2 linked regions of the Homo sapiens genome follow. The protein of the gene in region 1 interacts with the protein of each later gene in a biochemical or structural test. Each region holds a gene or a part of one and is shown in the gene's direction. Other genes may lie near its edges.

The links.
Region 2: the proteins of CSRP3 (region 1) and LDHD form a complex in vitro, tested with the Homo sapiens proteins (one study listed by BioGRID).

Annotation. Positions count from the first base shown.
Region 1 is NC_000011.10:19,184,975-19,191,994, reverse strand, and holds part of CSRP3 (cysteine and glycine-rich protein 3), read left to right. Parts: intron 1-3,690; coding exon 3,691-3,859; intron 3,860-5,646; coding exon 5,647-5,779; intron 5,780-6,949; coding exon 6,950-7,020. UniProt on the Homo sapiens protein: Positive regulator of myogenesis. Acts as a cofactor for myogenic bHLH transcription factors such as MYOD1, and probably MYOG and MYF6.
Region 2 is NC_000016.10:75,113,765-75,121,751, reverse strand, and holds the start of LDHD (probable D-lactate dehydrogenase, mitochondrial isoform 2 precursor), read left to right. Parts: upstream 1-4,971; 5' UTR 4,972-5,031; coding exon 5,032-5,103; intron 5,104-6,091; coding exon 6,092-6,204; intron 6,205-6,412; coding exon 6,413-6,554; intron 6,555-6,783; coding exon 6,784-6,925; intron 6,926-7,066; coding exon 7,067-7,226; intron 7,227-7,517; coding exon of another isoform or gene 7,518-7,586; coding exon 7,587-7,786; intron 7,787-7,881; coding exon 7,882-7,987. UniProt on the Homo sapiens protein: Involved in D-lactate, but not L-lactate catabolic process.

The DNA of each region.
Region 1 (7,020 bases):
CAGCACTTATCTGAAGCCAGGATGGATTTGGCTGTCTATGTTGCCCCTTCTGGTCAGCTGTGACTGAAGCCAGCTGTGACTGGTCTTGTCTGAGAGAGAACCTATGTCAGGCAGGGGGGCAACACATGCCAACTCTGTATGTAAGAGTCAGAGAGGGAAGCATTTCAGGGCCTGGGCACCAGTAACTGCATGAAAGAAATCCTGACCATTACCCGCCAGACACTGACTCACACATGTCAAAAATAGGGAGAACCTTGAGACCTTGTGGCTTGAACCTTGAGAACCTTGAGAACCTTGAGACCTTGTGAGTCTGGTCCTGCCTGACTCACGTGACTTTCGATAAGTCATTTCTCACATCTAAGCCCGGGTCATGTGCATCTGCGATAGAGTCTTATACATGAACCTCTACCTTTAGACTCCATGTCCAGTGCTCTTTGACATGACTGCATTCTATACTGTTTCCTGGCAGCTAGTCCTGTTTGGGAGAAAATTGGCCTTGGTTTTAAAATGGCCACTTATCTTCTCTGCTTCTGTCCAGGAGGTCTGGCTTAAGGGCTAGCTCTGCTGGATATTTGGCGAGCCCCCTCCCCGACTAGTCCCCACAGCCATGCCAGCACCCCCATGCTTCAGCCCGGTAGCTGCAAGGCATCCATGCAATTGAAAAGAACTCCAAGGGCTGGACTCCATCTGTTGGGGCTTTTGTCCAAAGAGAGCTAGCATTCTTTAAAAAACAGGATTAGGAATATTAGAAAGAATTCTAGAATTAGAGTAAAAGGGATTCGGGTTTGAGTCTGGGCTCTGCCATGTACTCACTGAGATTTTGGGCAGGTCATTTCACCATGGTGAACCTCAATTTCTCCACTTATAAAACAAAGATGATTATACCTACTGCACAGGTTGTTACAAGGAGAAAACTGGGGGGTCTTGATATGGAAATCCAGCCTTCTAGGCCTGTATTCTCCTTTGATCAACTTTGGTAACTGCGTGGGAACAGGAAATTGTAGGGAAGCTTTCCTTAGTAGAGGGTGTCTTGTCTTTCCCAGGTAGGAGGAAGATGCCCTGTTCAAAGGAGTTATAGTAGAAGAGATTTGAGCATTTTTTGGTACATCCCTTTTAACCCTTTGATATTTCCTGAGAACCCTTTGATGGGATGAGGATTTGAGCAGCATACATTTCAGGAACGATGGGTAGAAGAGCCCCAGAGAGGAGCACACTTTTCTATATTATTACCACAAGATAATCACCTGTCTGTCCGCAGGCAACTCTGTAGCTGCTGGAAAAGGCGTTCAGAGACGCAGGGTCTACCTTACATTGTGCCCAGGCCAGTGTTCCCCTGACTTCTAGATAAATCTTCACAATTAAATCTCTAGACTAATCATGAAATCTAGAAAGTAAGTTTGCTGTCCAAAAGAAATAAATATAATGCAGCAACATATGTAAATTTAAATGTTCTAGTAACCATAGTTTAAAAATGGTACAAATAAACAGATGAAATTAATCTTAAAACATTTTATTTAACTCAATATATCCAAAACATTATAATTTCAATGTATACTTCAATATACAAATGATCAGTGGGATATTTTACATGATTTTTGCGTTTGTACTGAGTGTTTGAAATCTGATGTGCATTTTGTGCTTACAGCACAGCATGTGGCTGTGGCCACAGCACTGGACAGCACAGTTCTCCTTTGTCTGTTCACAAAAGCTCATCAGAAGCCAGGGAGTGGCTACAGAATTGGCCAGGGCACCTTAGGGTATAGGCAGTCTTGGAGTGATGGGAATGAGCACTGGACTAGGAGTCAAAAGAGCTGAGGTAAGCCGTGGCTCTGCAACTTACTATTGTATAATTGTGAACAACTCACTGATTTACATTGACACATTCATTCATTCATTCATTCATGTACTCAATAAATGTTTACAGAGGACTAATTCTGGCCCAGGCCTTGTGCTAAATTCTCGGAATATTAAGACAAAACAGGCTTGCCCTCAAGGAACTCAGAGTCTAGACCATCAGCAAATATGCAAGCAGTTGTTGTGGAGGTTGGTAACTGACAGTAACAAGAAGGGTAGAGACAAGTGTACACACCTTCTATGTCTCAATATAAGGCATTCTCCCCCCAAATTCATCTTCATAAAAAAGATATGCCTTGTGTTTAAAGCCTTATAAAGTCTCTCCTGCTGTAAGACATTCTTCCAATTATTTTATTTACTGATTTAAACTTTTTTTTGGTACAGATATTTTTTAACACATACAATGTTGACAGAATAGTCAAATAAAGTCCCAGAATAAACTCCCTTGCCCCACACTCATCAGCCCCTGGCTAATCCTACCTCATCTACAACCTTATCTTCTTCCTCCACTCCCATATTCAATTACTTTATCTTTTAAAAAAGATAATATCATTTGAAGAAGGCATATTAGCCTGAAATAACCTCATTCAATGCTGGATTGCTTATAGGGATCATTTGATGGAAATGTTTTTTTAAAAGGCAAATACATTTAATGCACACATATTATTATTCCTGGGGATATTATCTCCCTATTATAAGCACTGAGCATCACTATAAACAACCTTTAAGAATCATTGTTGCAAAGCAATGTAGCAAGTCATTACATGGTGGAAATTCTATATCTTTTAAAAAATCTGCCCTAATGCTATGCTAATAGGTCCTTCTTGTTGAGATGCAATTTCTAGGTGACAACCTCCTACTCAGGTATAAAACAGGGCTGCCTCTTTAAACGTACAGATAGAAGTGAAAGTGAGCTGCTCAGAAAAGCTGGGCCAGCTGCCCCCAGAAATGATTCTGGTGGTGAGGGAGATGCCGATGTTGAAGATGCAAAGACAGAATTGGAGATAATTATTCCCCAAATTTATGTGGGATTAGAAAAAAGTAACCTTTCCAAATCAATATATTGTTGATTTATATTACTAAATTAAAATTATAAGTAGATATTTGACATTTTTATTTATATCTTTAAAAGTTTCCTTTTAAATTTGCAAAATAAATCTTTCTATAAATCCTCTCTTTGGAAAAATGAGGGCTTGATTGCCTTATACTGGAGGATACTTTACATTAGGTAATATACAGTAACCAGGGGGCTTGAGCCAATAGAAGCCTAAGGAGTTAATAAGGCAGGTCTACCCCCTTCCCCACCTCCTCTGCTTCCAGAATTTGACCAAAATTAGCCTCAATGGCAATTGTCTGCTTGAATATCACAGTGTCCTTCAAAGGCTGTGGTAAGTACAGAAAGTGCTCAATCCTGATTCTTTTATGATTAAGAAAAAAGTAAGTTTCTCTCCTGCCTTAACCCACCCCCTGCCAACGCGCGCGCCCACAAACACACACACACACACACACACACACACACACACACACTTCCCTGATGTCATTTGGGAAGACTCAGGGATGCAGTCCTTAGCAGGTCTGAGACTATATATCTCGTTCTAATGCTAGCTTCCACCCTTTTCCAGCTGGGAACCACTGAACCCAATTTTGTCATCTGTGAGATCGGGACTGTCTTGGAGTGCACAACTCAGGGCAGATACTCTGGTCAGGAATCAACATTGTATTCTTGGCTCAGGGGCCCCTCATGCTGGGTCTCTGGCCCCGAGCATGGCATTGGGAGTGCAAAGAAGGGGAGAAGGATTTCAATTCCAATCCCATGACCCTTCCTTTTCCTGGCAGTGGCCTGCAGGAAGGCTCTTGACAGCACGACAGTCGCGGCTCATGAGTCGGAGATCTACTGCAAGGTGTGCTATGGGCGCAGATATGGCCCCAAAGGGATCGGGTATGGACAAGGCGCTGGCTGTCTCAGCACAGACACGGGCGAGCATCTCGGCCTGCAGTTCCAACAGTGAGTTACTGCCCTGCTCCCCCTTGCCTGTTAAAGTCTCCAATTATCAGGACAGTTCATTTCGTTCCCATAGCAACGTTTTCTGGAAGTGGGAGAATGGACTCTATTGTTGACTTGCCAACAATAGGAATACTCAGTCTGACCAAGTTTGAACAATGTGTCATCTCTCCAAAGACTCTCTTTAAATTATTTGCCATTCTAAAGGGCAATTACTTTTACACCATGGCTCTTGGTTTGCATGTCAAGAGAAAACCCAGGATGTACAGATGTTCCATTGTTTGACCTTTGCAAAACTGCATGGAGTCTCCTTTCTTCCCCGTTGAGAGTTTCTGTGTAAATCACACAAATATGGCAGGGCAGCAATGGCCATTCTTTGTGTGCCTGTCATGAAAAGATTTCTTCCCTTGGATTGTAAGATGACAAACGTCCACATGGCAGGGGGAGTGTGTCTGCAAGGATGGGCTGTGCCTCAGAGTAAACAATCAATCATGATTTTTCTGGGGGTTCCCTGGCTGCCTGTTGCCAATACAGTGCTAGAGTTCCCGCCACATTATCCTAGGGAAGCTGGGACATCACTCTGGCCACCTCCATCCACCAGTCTGGTCCCCTGGGTCCACTTTCTTGATAACCACATTGACCTCCAGCCCAGAATTGAGGAAAGTCTGATGGCCACTGGCCTGACACTACTCTCTGGCCAGCTGGCCTCCAGGCTGAGCTCTGCACTGCGACTGGCCAGAAAGGCCCAGCCCAACCAAGGAAGTGTCCCATGGAGGGCCTCCCCCAGAGAGCACTTCAGCCATCTGAGGAATCAGCTGATCCCTTCAAAAGAGAGTAAGCCACAGGAGAGCATGGAAACGTGGAGAGATGTGTGATTAGTCATCTTAGAGAGAAGACTTCTTTTTGTTAGTTTGTCTTATTACTCAATCTCAAATGGAGACTCTTGTTAAGGAAGAAAACATACCACTGCATTCTCTGCCTCACATTGACTGAAGTTCACTTTTCAACATTAGGGCTTCCTAGTGATGCTGCACAAAGAGTAACAAGGTCTGAAGACCTAGGATTTCCTCCTAGGTCCATCATTCATGAGCTGCCTGGCCTTGGGCAGTCACACTCTGATCCTCACTCTCCTCCAACCAGCCCTGCCTACCTTATAGGGTTGTGGTACAGCTCAAGTGATATAATATACAAGCAAACACCAAAAGATACCAACACATGAGAGGCTATTATTATGTCTCTATTTTGGACATTGTTCTCCTGGGACAGGTGACCCTTGGAGGCAGGACGACAGCCTGGCTTGTGATAAGGAATGCATCAGCTCATGGACTGTGGTTCATCAGGAACTGATTAGCACCCATTGTCAAAATCCCACCTTGCTCTGTAATTTTCACAACTCTCTTTAGAAAGGAAAGAAGTGGCCTTGCAAATGGTCCAGAAAAACACAAATAAGCACAGTAGTAATAACAACACAACAACAACAATAACACAAGCTAACATAACTAGAACATTTGCTAAGTGCTTCACAACAAAAAGGAAAGCTCTAAACCCATTTTAGCAAACATTTATTAGCCCTTACTACATGCCAGGCGGGCACTGTTCTAAGTGCTTTACAAATGTCGCCTCATTTAACCCTCTCAACAACGCTATGAGAAAGACACCATCATTATCCCCATTTTCCAGATGAGGAGTCTGAGACACACGGAAGTGAGGTCACTTTCTCAAGGCCACACAGCTCTTCTACTCTTTGCCAAGGGAAATCTACGTTTCATTCATTCGTCTATTTCCAACAGGTCCCCAAAGCCGGCACGCTCAGTTACCACCAGCAACCCTTCCAAATTCACTGCGAAGTTTGGAGAGTCCGAGAAGTGCCCTCGATGTGGCAAGTCAGTCTATGCTGCTGAGAAGGTTATGGGAGGTGGCAAGGTAAGACCTTCTGTATGAGCCAGACAGAATTTGCTCATCTCCACCAGGCCATTTGGGAGGAATGAGAGAAAAATTGGGAGCTGCAAGCAGCTGTCATTCTCTCTAGCTCCCAGAACAACTTTAGAAACCACACATCCTCAGCCACTTTCCCAGGCTGGGGCTGTCTGTCATCTAGCATTGCCCTTTGAAAGCTGGAACTGGTGCAGTTTGAAGCAGCAAGCATTATTCTACTAGATGGAAGGCACCCAGCTGAAAGTTCTGGGATACAAAGCAAAAGCCCGTCTACCCTCCAGTGTCCACAATCCCCCCAAAAGATGTCAGCCCCAGACCAACCACTGCCTAACTCAACCTGTTGCTGCCACCATGACCAATGGATATAGCAGACGCCTCACAGTAGTGAGAAGCATCCTCACTTACGAACTTCCTGGCTCTCAGGAAAGTCATCAGATGTCCGAGACACTCATGCATATGTGCTCTGCAAGTTCCAGTTTCAGGCCCAAAGCCTGGGTACTCACCAAAGGAGTCAGACCTGAGGAAAGAGAAAAATTATGTTTATACCACATGGTGGGAGGAAGGGCCGTGGGGAGCATCTAACTTCAAACACAAGGGCAGGCTCCACCCTAAAACTGGCCATTTGAAGACATAGGAGAAGCCCTGGGCTGTACCTGGTAGACACGCAGATGTGCAGGAGGATGGAGATCTAGAACATCGAAATTATGCAACTCTGCCTCAGAATTACACAGAGGAATTAAACCAGAGAGTTAAAACAAGGTTGAATTCCCTGAACAATTGCCTGATTTCTTTATTTTTTTTCCTTCTGTAACTTTATACTCAACATAAACATCACCCAGTGCCCCCAGCCCAAGTCCTTCTCTGACCAGTTTGTTCCTTGGATCTTTTTGGCCTGGGGAAGCCCTTTCCCGTTTAGTCTATTCTGAAGGAAAACATATGCAAATCACCATGACAAATCCATTTTCAGGCTTCTGAGAAGTGCTGGCTAAGGCCATAGCATCTCATTTTCTCCAAACCCCTGGAGAAATTATGGGGCCCATTAGGTAAGCAAATGGTTAAGACGTGTCACTCCTCTGGATGCTGCTGGTCAGGGACTTGAAATGGAAACAGAATGTGTTGCCTACCTCATTAAATATGCAACTTTTCTGTGCCCCTCAGCCTTGGCACAAGACCTGTTTCCGCTGTGCCATCTGTGGGAAGAGTCTGGAGTCCACAAATGTCACTGACAA
Region 2 (7,987 bases), on another chromosome or scaffold:
GCACTTTTATTTTCTTAAGCCAGTTAATTAGAGCTCTTTTAAGCATTTTCAGTAGTGAAGCATTGTGTACACAACACATAAATACATAGACGTATTAGGCATGCTGATAGAAGTACATCTTATGGATACACTCAGATTATTGATAACCTGCTTCACAACCCTAGGCAGTTGTCAGCTAACTAGCCTTATGTTTGCATATTAAAGGAAACAACTCAGGTGAAAATCAAATAGCAAAATTTACATCATAAGGTACAGAGAGAAAAAGTCTGATGGTGCCAGAGGGAGATGAAAGATGAATGCCAAATCAAACATAAAATTAAAGAAATTTGCCGGGTGTGGTGGTTCATTCCTGTAATCCCAACACTTTGGGGGGCCGAGGTGGGCGGATCACAAGGTCAGGAGATCGAAACCATCCTGGCTAACACGGCGAAACCCCGTCTCTATTAAAAATACAAAAAATTAGCTGGGCGTGGTGGTGGGCGCCTGTAGTCCCAGTTATGTCTGTACTCTCTGGAGTACAGAGATCACCCCACTGTACTCCAACCTGGGTGACAGCGAGACTCTGTCTCAAAAAAAAAAAAACAAAAAAGAAATTTATCATAGGATTGTATAAGGAGACTAGTTTTATTTAGATAAAGGGACTACCTTTTAAGTGGATCTCTGAGCTCTGGGCAGAGCCCACACTGAATCCTGGGTCTCCAAGAAGGGACACTTATTATGAGGTTAGAACACGTGATGCTTTTACAGTGCACTTTTTAAAAAACTTCTTTTAAACAAAGACATTTCTAAGTGTCTAAACCATAGTCTTCCTTAAAAACCCAAGGGTAGGCTGGGTGCAGTGGCTTATGCCTGTAATCCCAGCACTTTGGGAGGCTGAGGCGGGCGGATCATGAGGTCAGGAGATCGAGACCATCCTGGCTAACACGGTGAAACCCGTCTCTACTAAAAATACAAAACAAACAAACAAACAAACAAACAAACAAAAAACAAGCTGGGCATGGTGGCGCTTGTAGTCCCAGCTACTTGGGAGGCTGAGGCAGGAGAATGGCGTGAACCCGGGAGGCGGAGCTTGCAGTGAGCCGAGATTGCGCCACTGCACTCCAGCCTGGGCGACAGAGTGAAACTCAGACTCAAAACAAACAAACAAACAATACAAAAAACAAAAAACAAAAAAACCCAAGGGTAACCTCTGTTGCAATAACTATTTTAGTCAAAAAAAAAAACAAAAAAAAACCCAAAAAAAAACCACAAACAGGTAACAACAATACAAAAGTAAGCAGTTGAAGAGACGAGACGAACTTGCCTGTTTACACTCTGGGGATTGCATAAGAAAAAACAGGTTTCTCCCTTAAAGGGAGCCTGGTGCCTTCTCTGTTCTCTTTAAGGAACCCCAGCTATTATAAACTATTTTAGGTCCCTCATGCAGCAGAGGGTGCAAGAGAAAGGAGATACAGCCGAAGTAAATGAAGAAAACAGAATTCAGTCAACTGAGAAGAAAAAAACTTTCGCTCAAAAAAAGACAAGATTCTTGGAGAAAAACAAAAACAAAAACATGAAGTCCTTTTAAATACAAACACACACACGCACATGCGCACACACACACACACCACACATACACATGCACATCTTCGATGTTAGCTTTTAATTAAGCTGACTTTTAATCATTGAGCTCCTTTAAAAAAATCTTTTAAAATCTCATTACCATATTTCAGCTAGGACAAATTGCTGCTATTTCAGAAGCACAGCCATTGCTCTTTCAGTTTGGCCTGGCTAGCAAAAAGGTGGCCTCGTTGTGTAACTAAAGCCACTTAGTAGTCAAAATAAAAAATCTTTCCTTTTTTTTTTCCTTTTGCTGGCTGTTTTTCACCCCCTATCACATCATCCTTTGTGTATGTGTGTGTGTGTGAATTTAGCCACTTCAGAGGCCTTGTTCCCCATAATTTGGGACTTCCTTTGTATTTGATCAAGTCAGATAGAGTTGATCAAACCCAATGGGAAAAAGACTGAAAGAACAACAAAAAGAGAAATGAACAACAACAAAACAGTTAAGCAAAACAAATGATCACACAATTTATATGATTACTAAGCTTTCTAGTGGTAAGGAGAAATTAAGACCAGCTGGTTGTAATCTTAACTTTAGCCAAAACAAACCCCAATTCAGTTACTTACCTAGGGATGGGTTTCAGGCTGAAGACTGCTCTCTACCATCCTAGAAGCAGGGAAAAACCCTCATCTTCCCTGTTGGTTGCGAGCTCAAACACCATAAAGGAGTTACCTGCCTTCCATCAACATGGAAGCAGGAAAAATTTGCCTTCCTTGTGTTAGAAGCAAGTAAAACTCCAAAAAAAAAAGAGGAGTTGTACAACAAAATGAACTTTAGATCTTGACCAGATTTTGAAAGATAAGGTATTCTCTGGAGGGTGTGCTTCCGGGCCTCAGCAAATTGTCCTATTGGTTTGAGCCATAAAGATAGCTCAAGCTGGTACCAAGCACTGATAGCTTTGTCAAAGGTCAGGGGCGCCTCCAGTCAGAATTCTTCTGTGGTTACCAAAATATGAACCCCCCAAATCTGAGAAAGGTCTCAGTTAATTTAGAAAGTTTATTTTGCCAATGATGATGGTGTGACACAGCCTCAGGAGATCCCAATGACATGTCCCCAAGGTGGTCAGAGCACAATTTAGTTTTATACATTTTGGGGAGACTTGAGACGTCACTCAACATACGTAAGATGAACATTGTTTGGGTCTGGAAAGACAGGGAGGGGGCTTCCCGGTCATAGGTAGATAAGAGACAAATGTTTGCATTCTTTTGAGTTTCTAATTATCCTCTCAAAAGGAGGCAATCAGATATGCATTTAGCTCAGTGATCAGAGGGGTGACTTTGAAAGAATGGGAGGCAGGTTTGCCTTAAGCAGTTCCCAGCTTGACTTTTCCCTTTAGCTTAGTAATTTTGGGGGCTCAAGATATTTCCCTTTCAGACCTCTTCAGTAGAATTCTTTCTTCTGATGAGGCAAGCATTGAGTTTTATGTAGACCTGTATGGATTTCCCACCACTCACATGAAGACCATGACCTGTGACACATTCCCTGGAGGTCCTGAGAACATGTACCCAAGGCAGTTGAGTTACAACTGGTTTTATACAGTTTAGGGAGGCATCAGACAGTAATCAATATAAGCAGGGTATGCATTGGTTCCTTCTGATTGAGGGAGGAGCTTACAGGTCATAGGTGAATTCAAAGACTTTTCTGATTGGCGCTGGGCACGGTGGCTCACACTTGTAATCCCAGCATTTTGGGGAGCCAAGGCGGGTGGATCACTTGAGGTCAGGAGTTCGAGACCAGCCTGGACCAACATGGTGAAACCCTGTCTCTATTAAAAATACAAAAATTAGCTGGGCATGGTGGCACTCCTGTAATCCCAGCTACTTGGGAGGCTGAGGCATGAGAACAGCTTGAACCCAGGAGATGGAGGTTGTAGTGAGCTGAGATCACGCCACTGCCTGAGCAACAGAGTGAGACTCCATCTCAAAAAAAAAAAAAAATTTCTGATTTTCAATTGGTTGAAAGAAGTTATTATCCAAAGACTTGGAATCTTGGTATACAACAACAAAATTTTTTTTAAATAAAAAATTTTAAAAAAGACAACCTGGAATCAATAGAAATAAGCATCTGGGTTAAGATAAGGAGTTGTGGAGACCAAGGTTCTTTTTTTTTGAGACAGAGTCTCGCTCTGTCGCCAGGCTGGAGTGCCGTGGTGCGATCTCAGCTCACTGCAACCTCCACCTCCTGGGTTCAAGCGATTCTCCTGCCTCAGCCTCCCAAGTAGCTGAGACTACAGGCGTGTACCACCATGCCCAGCTAATTTTTGTATTTTTAGTAGAAACGGGGTTTCACCATGTTGGCCAAGAGGGTCTCTATCTCTTGACCTCGTGATCCTCCCACTTTGGCCTCCCAAAGTGCTGGCATTACAGATGTGAGCCGCTGCACCCGGCCCAAGGTTCTTATTATGTAACATAGATGGTAAATGTCTAAGGCGTTAAAAGGTGCCAGACTCTTAGTTAAATCTCCCTTAGATCAGGATAAAACCTGGAAAGAGGCTGGACGCGGTGGCTCATGCCTGTAATCCCAGCACTTTGGGAGGCCAAGGCAGGTGGATCACGAGGTCAGGAGTTCAAGACCAGCCTGGCCAAGATGGTGAAACCCTGTCTCTACTAAAAATAGAAAAATTATCTGGGCACAGTGGCAGGCACCTGTAATCCCAGCTACTTGGGAGGCTGAGGCAGGAGAATCGCTTGAACCCAGTGGGTGGAGGTTGCAGCACGCTACTGCACTCCAGCCTGGGCCACAGAGTGACTCTGTCTCAAAACAAAACAAAACAAAACAAAAAACCTGGAAAGGGGAGGGGATTCTCTACAGATTCTAGATTTTCCCCACAAAAGACAGCTTTTTGGAGCTATTTAAAAAAAAAATCAGAGGAATATATTTTGGGGGTAAAATACATTGATTTCTTTCAGGGCCTGCTATCTGTCAGGTGATGCTAGAGTCAGGTTGGAATTTGGTATCTTATTGCTACAAAGAGTCTGTTTTGTGTCTTAAGATCAGAATGCCTTAAGGTCTCTGTTTTAATGTTAATGCTGGTCAGTTGTGTCTGAATTCTAAAGGAAGGAGGGGGATAATGAGGCTTGTCCTAAACCTCTTCCCATCACAGCCTGAATTAATTTTTCAGGTTTATTTTGGAATGCCCTGGGCTGAGAGGGAGGTCCATTCAGTCGGTTGGGAGGCTTAGAATTTTATTTTTGCCTTACAGTTTCCCAAAACGTCCAGTGAACCTCGCCTCTCCTTTAGAAGTGTCGTCCCTGGAGCCCACGAAAATGTCTGCAAGATCTGCAAGGGCCACCTTAAAGCCCGTGCCACCTTAAGCAGGCCCCACCCCTGGCCTAGCCAATGGGCTGACAGCAGCAGTAGCTGCTGCCACAGTAGCTGACTGGTCACCCTGCCACCCAGTGCTCACACCCTCTGGCCAGTGCCTGGCTATGGCCCGACTGCTCAGGTCTGCAACCTGGGAGCTGTTCCCCTGGAGGGGCTACTGCTCCCAGAAGGCAAAGGTACCGGGAGAGAAGAGAAGTCCTCTGGAGGGATGAGGTGGGGAGCGGGGAGCAGGGGGTTCTGATCCCAAGTTTCCTGGGCTCTGTGACGCCCCAGCACCAAGTGACCTGACCTTGGGCAAAAGGGCACTGGGCTTACCCTGTGGCAACTGTGGGTGGGTGTAGAGTGAGATCAGCTGAGTCCCCACTGCTACCATGAGTGGGGCTGGGGGAGTCAAATGGATGCCCCTGGAATAAAACACACCTGTGGAAGAAGGCCCTGAAGGAAAGGGCCTGGGTTCCAGGCCAGGCTCTGTCCTTAACTTGGCCTCCATTTCTCATCTGTAAAATGGGAAGAAACACATCCCCCGCCCCGCCGCGCCCCGCCCCCCACGAAGGGCCCAGAAGCCCCAGGCAACGTAGAGTGGGGAGGGGGCAGTGGAAGCTTTTCCTCCCCCTAATTCCCTTATCAAGCTCTGAGTTCCCTGTGGCTGGGGTGGTGCTTGGTTGGCCCTGGAGAAAGGAGGAAGTGAGGGATCTTTTCGGTTGCTCAGGCTGGGCTGGCTATTGAAGGAACCCTGCTGATAGCCTTTTTGGAGAGTGAATTCTGGTTTTTTATTTGGATGGCTGGGCGCTGTGGCTCACGCCTGTAACCCCAGCACTTTGGGAGGCCGAGGCAGGTGGATCGCTTGAGCCCAGGAGTTTGAAACCATCCTGGGCAACATAGTAAGACCCTGTTTTTATTAAAAAAGAAAACATTAAAAAAATTCTGGTGGCGTTTTTTTCTGAGGGGAAACTTTGACCCCCAATGGCTCTGTTTGGAAAAGAGGCATTTCTGGATAGTGGGTTTGTTTAAAGTGGGCCCACCTGGCAAGGATGTTGTCAGCGGGGCGGGCGCAGGGGAGGCTCACTCCAGCCTCCAGCCCCCAGCCCTCCCCCCGACACTGGGGCAGGGCTGTGGCCCCATGTGTCTTTCGGGGGACCCTGGCAGTGTGTTTCTTCCCTGCAGGGAGAGCTCTGCAGGGACTTCGTAGAGGCTCTGAAGGCCGTGGTGGGCGGCTCCCACGTGTCCACTGCCGCGGTGGTCCGAGAGCAGCACGGGCGCGATGAGTCGGTGCACAGGTATGGGAGGGTTCGCGGGCCCCTCCCCTGTCTTCTGGATTCAACCCCAGCTGAGAGAGAGGGTGCTGGGTTGCCTTCCTCCTCACTCATCTGTTTTGGGGTGCTCTGGCATGTTCTCTGCCCCTCGCTTGCTGTAGCCTCAGGCCCTGCAACACCTCGGGACCAGAGGGTGTCACGCCCCGCTAAATCGCTGAGGGTCTGGTTCTAGGTGCGAACCTCCTGATGCTGTGGTGTGGCCCCAGAACGTGGAGCAGGTCAGCCGGCTGGCAGCCCTGTGCTATCGCCAAGGTGTGCCCATCATCCCATTCGGCACCGGCACCGGGCTTGAGGGTGGCGTCTGTGCTGTGCAGGTACAGTGGGGCTCCCTCGCCCGGCCCGAGGATGGTCCCAGCACACCTTGGCACACCTGTGGCTGCCTCCCCCGCCACACACGGCACCTTGGGTCTGCTCCCGCCCGTGGGCTGCCTGCCTCTGGGGGTCTGGTCTGGCTGCTGGGGGGACACCCGCGGGGTGTGGTCCGGGGACGTGGCCAGGTCAGAGACCCAGGTCTGCAGTGGTCTTAGCACCTGCCCCAACCAGGGCGGCGTCTGCGTTAACCTGACGCATATGGACCGAATCCTGGAGCTGAACCAGGAGGACTTCTCTGTGGTGGTGGAGCCAGGTGTCACCCGCAAAGCCCTCAACGCCCACCTGCGGGACAGCGGCCTCTGGTTTCCCGTGGGTAGGACTCGCGAACCTTTCCTGGGACCCTGAGGGCACCGTGGGAGCAGGGCTGTGTCTGGGGTTCAGGGGACCTTCCTCCCCCAGCCCGAGGGAAAGGACCTCCGGTCCCTGAGGCTGCCTTCTGTACGCCGCCCTCCAGACCCAGGCGCGGACGCCTCTCTCTGTGGCATGGCGGCCACCGGGGCGTCGGGGACCAACGCGGTCCGCTACGGCACCATGCGGGACAACGTGCTCAACCTGGAGGTGGTGCTGCCCGACGGGCGGCTGCTGCACACGGCGGGCCGAGGCCGGCATTTCCGGTGAGCGCCCTCTGCGGGGGGCCCGGGCTCTGGCCCTGGGCACTGCTGGCGGGCTGCCCTGCAGAGACCGGGCTGTGAAAAGCACCTCCTGGCGGCCCCCTGGTTTGGCAGGCTAGGCTTCCTCAGGCTCTGAAGCCCTGTCAGCTGGGCCAAAGTGGATGGGACCAGGGTTTGCTCTCCCTGCCTGAGGCCGACTGGCTTTGTGGAGCAGAAAGCACTGGGCCAGGGAAACTGGGCCCGAGGGAGGCCAGCCCAGACCTCAGTGCCTGGGGTCGGTGTCTTGGGTTCCAGCTTCGGCTTCTGGCCAGAAATCCCTCATCACACAGCCTGGTACTCACCTTGTGTGTCCCTGGGACGTAGGAAGAGTGCAGCCGGCTACAACCTCACGGGGCTCTTCGTGGGCTCCGAGGGGACGCTGGGCCTCATCACAGCCACCACCCTGCGCCTGCACCCTGCCCCTGAGGCCACAGTGGCCGCCACGTGTGCGTTCCCCAGTGTCCAGGCTGCTGTGGACAGCACTGTACACATCCTCCAGGCTGCAGTGCCCGTAGCCCGCATTGGTGAGCTGAGGATGGGGGCAGTCAGGGTGGGCTCCCTGGAAGAGGCCCCCTGGGAAGGCCAGGCCTCACCTGGCCTGCCATCTCCCTGGATCCAGAGTTCCTGGATGAAGTCATGATGGATGCCTGCAACAGGTACAGCAAGCTGAATTGCTTAGTGGCGCCCACACTCTTCCTGGAGTTCCATGGCTCCCAGCAGGCACT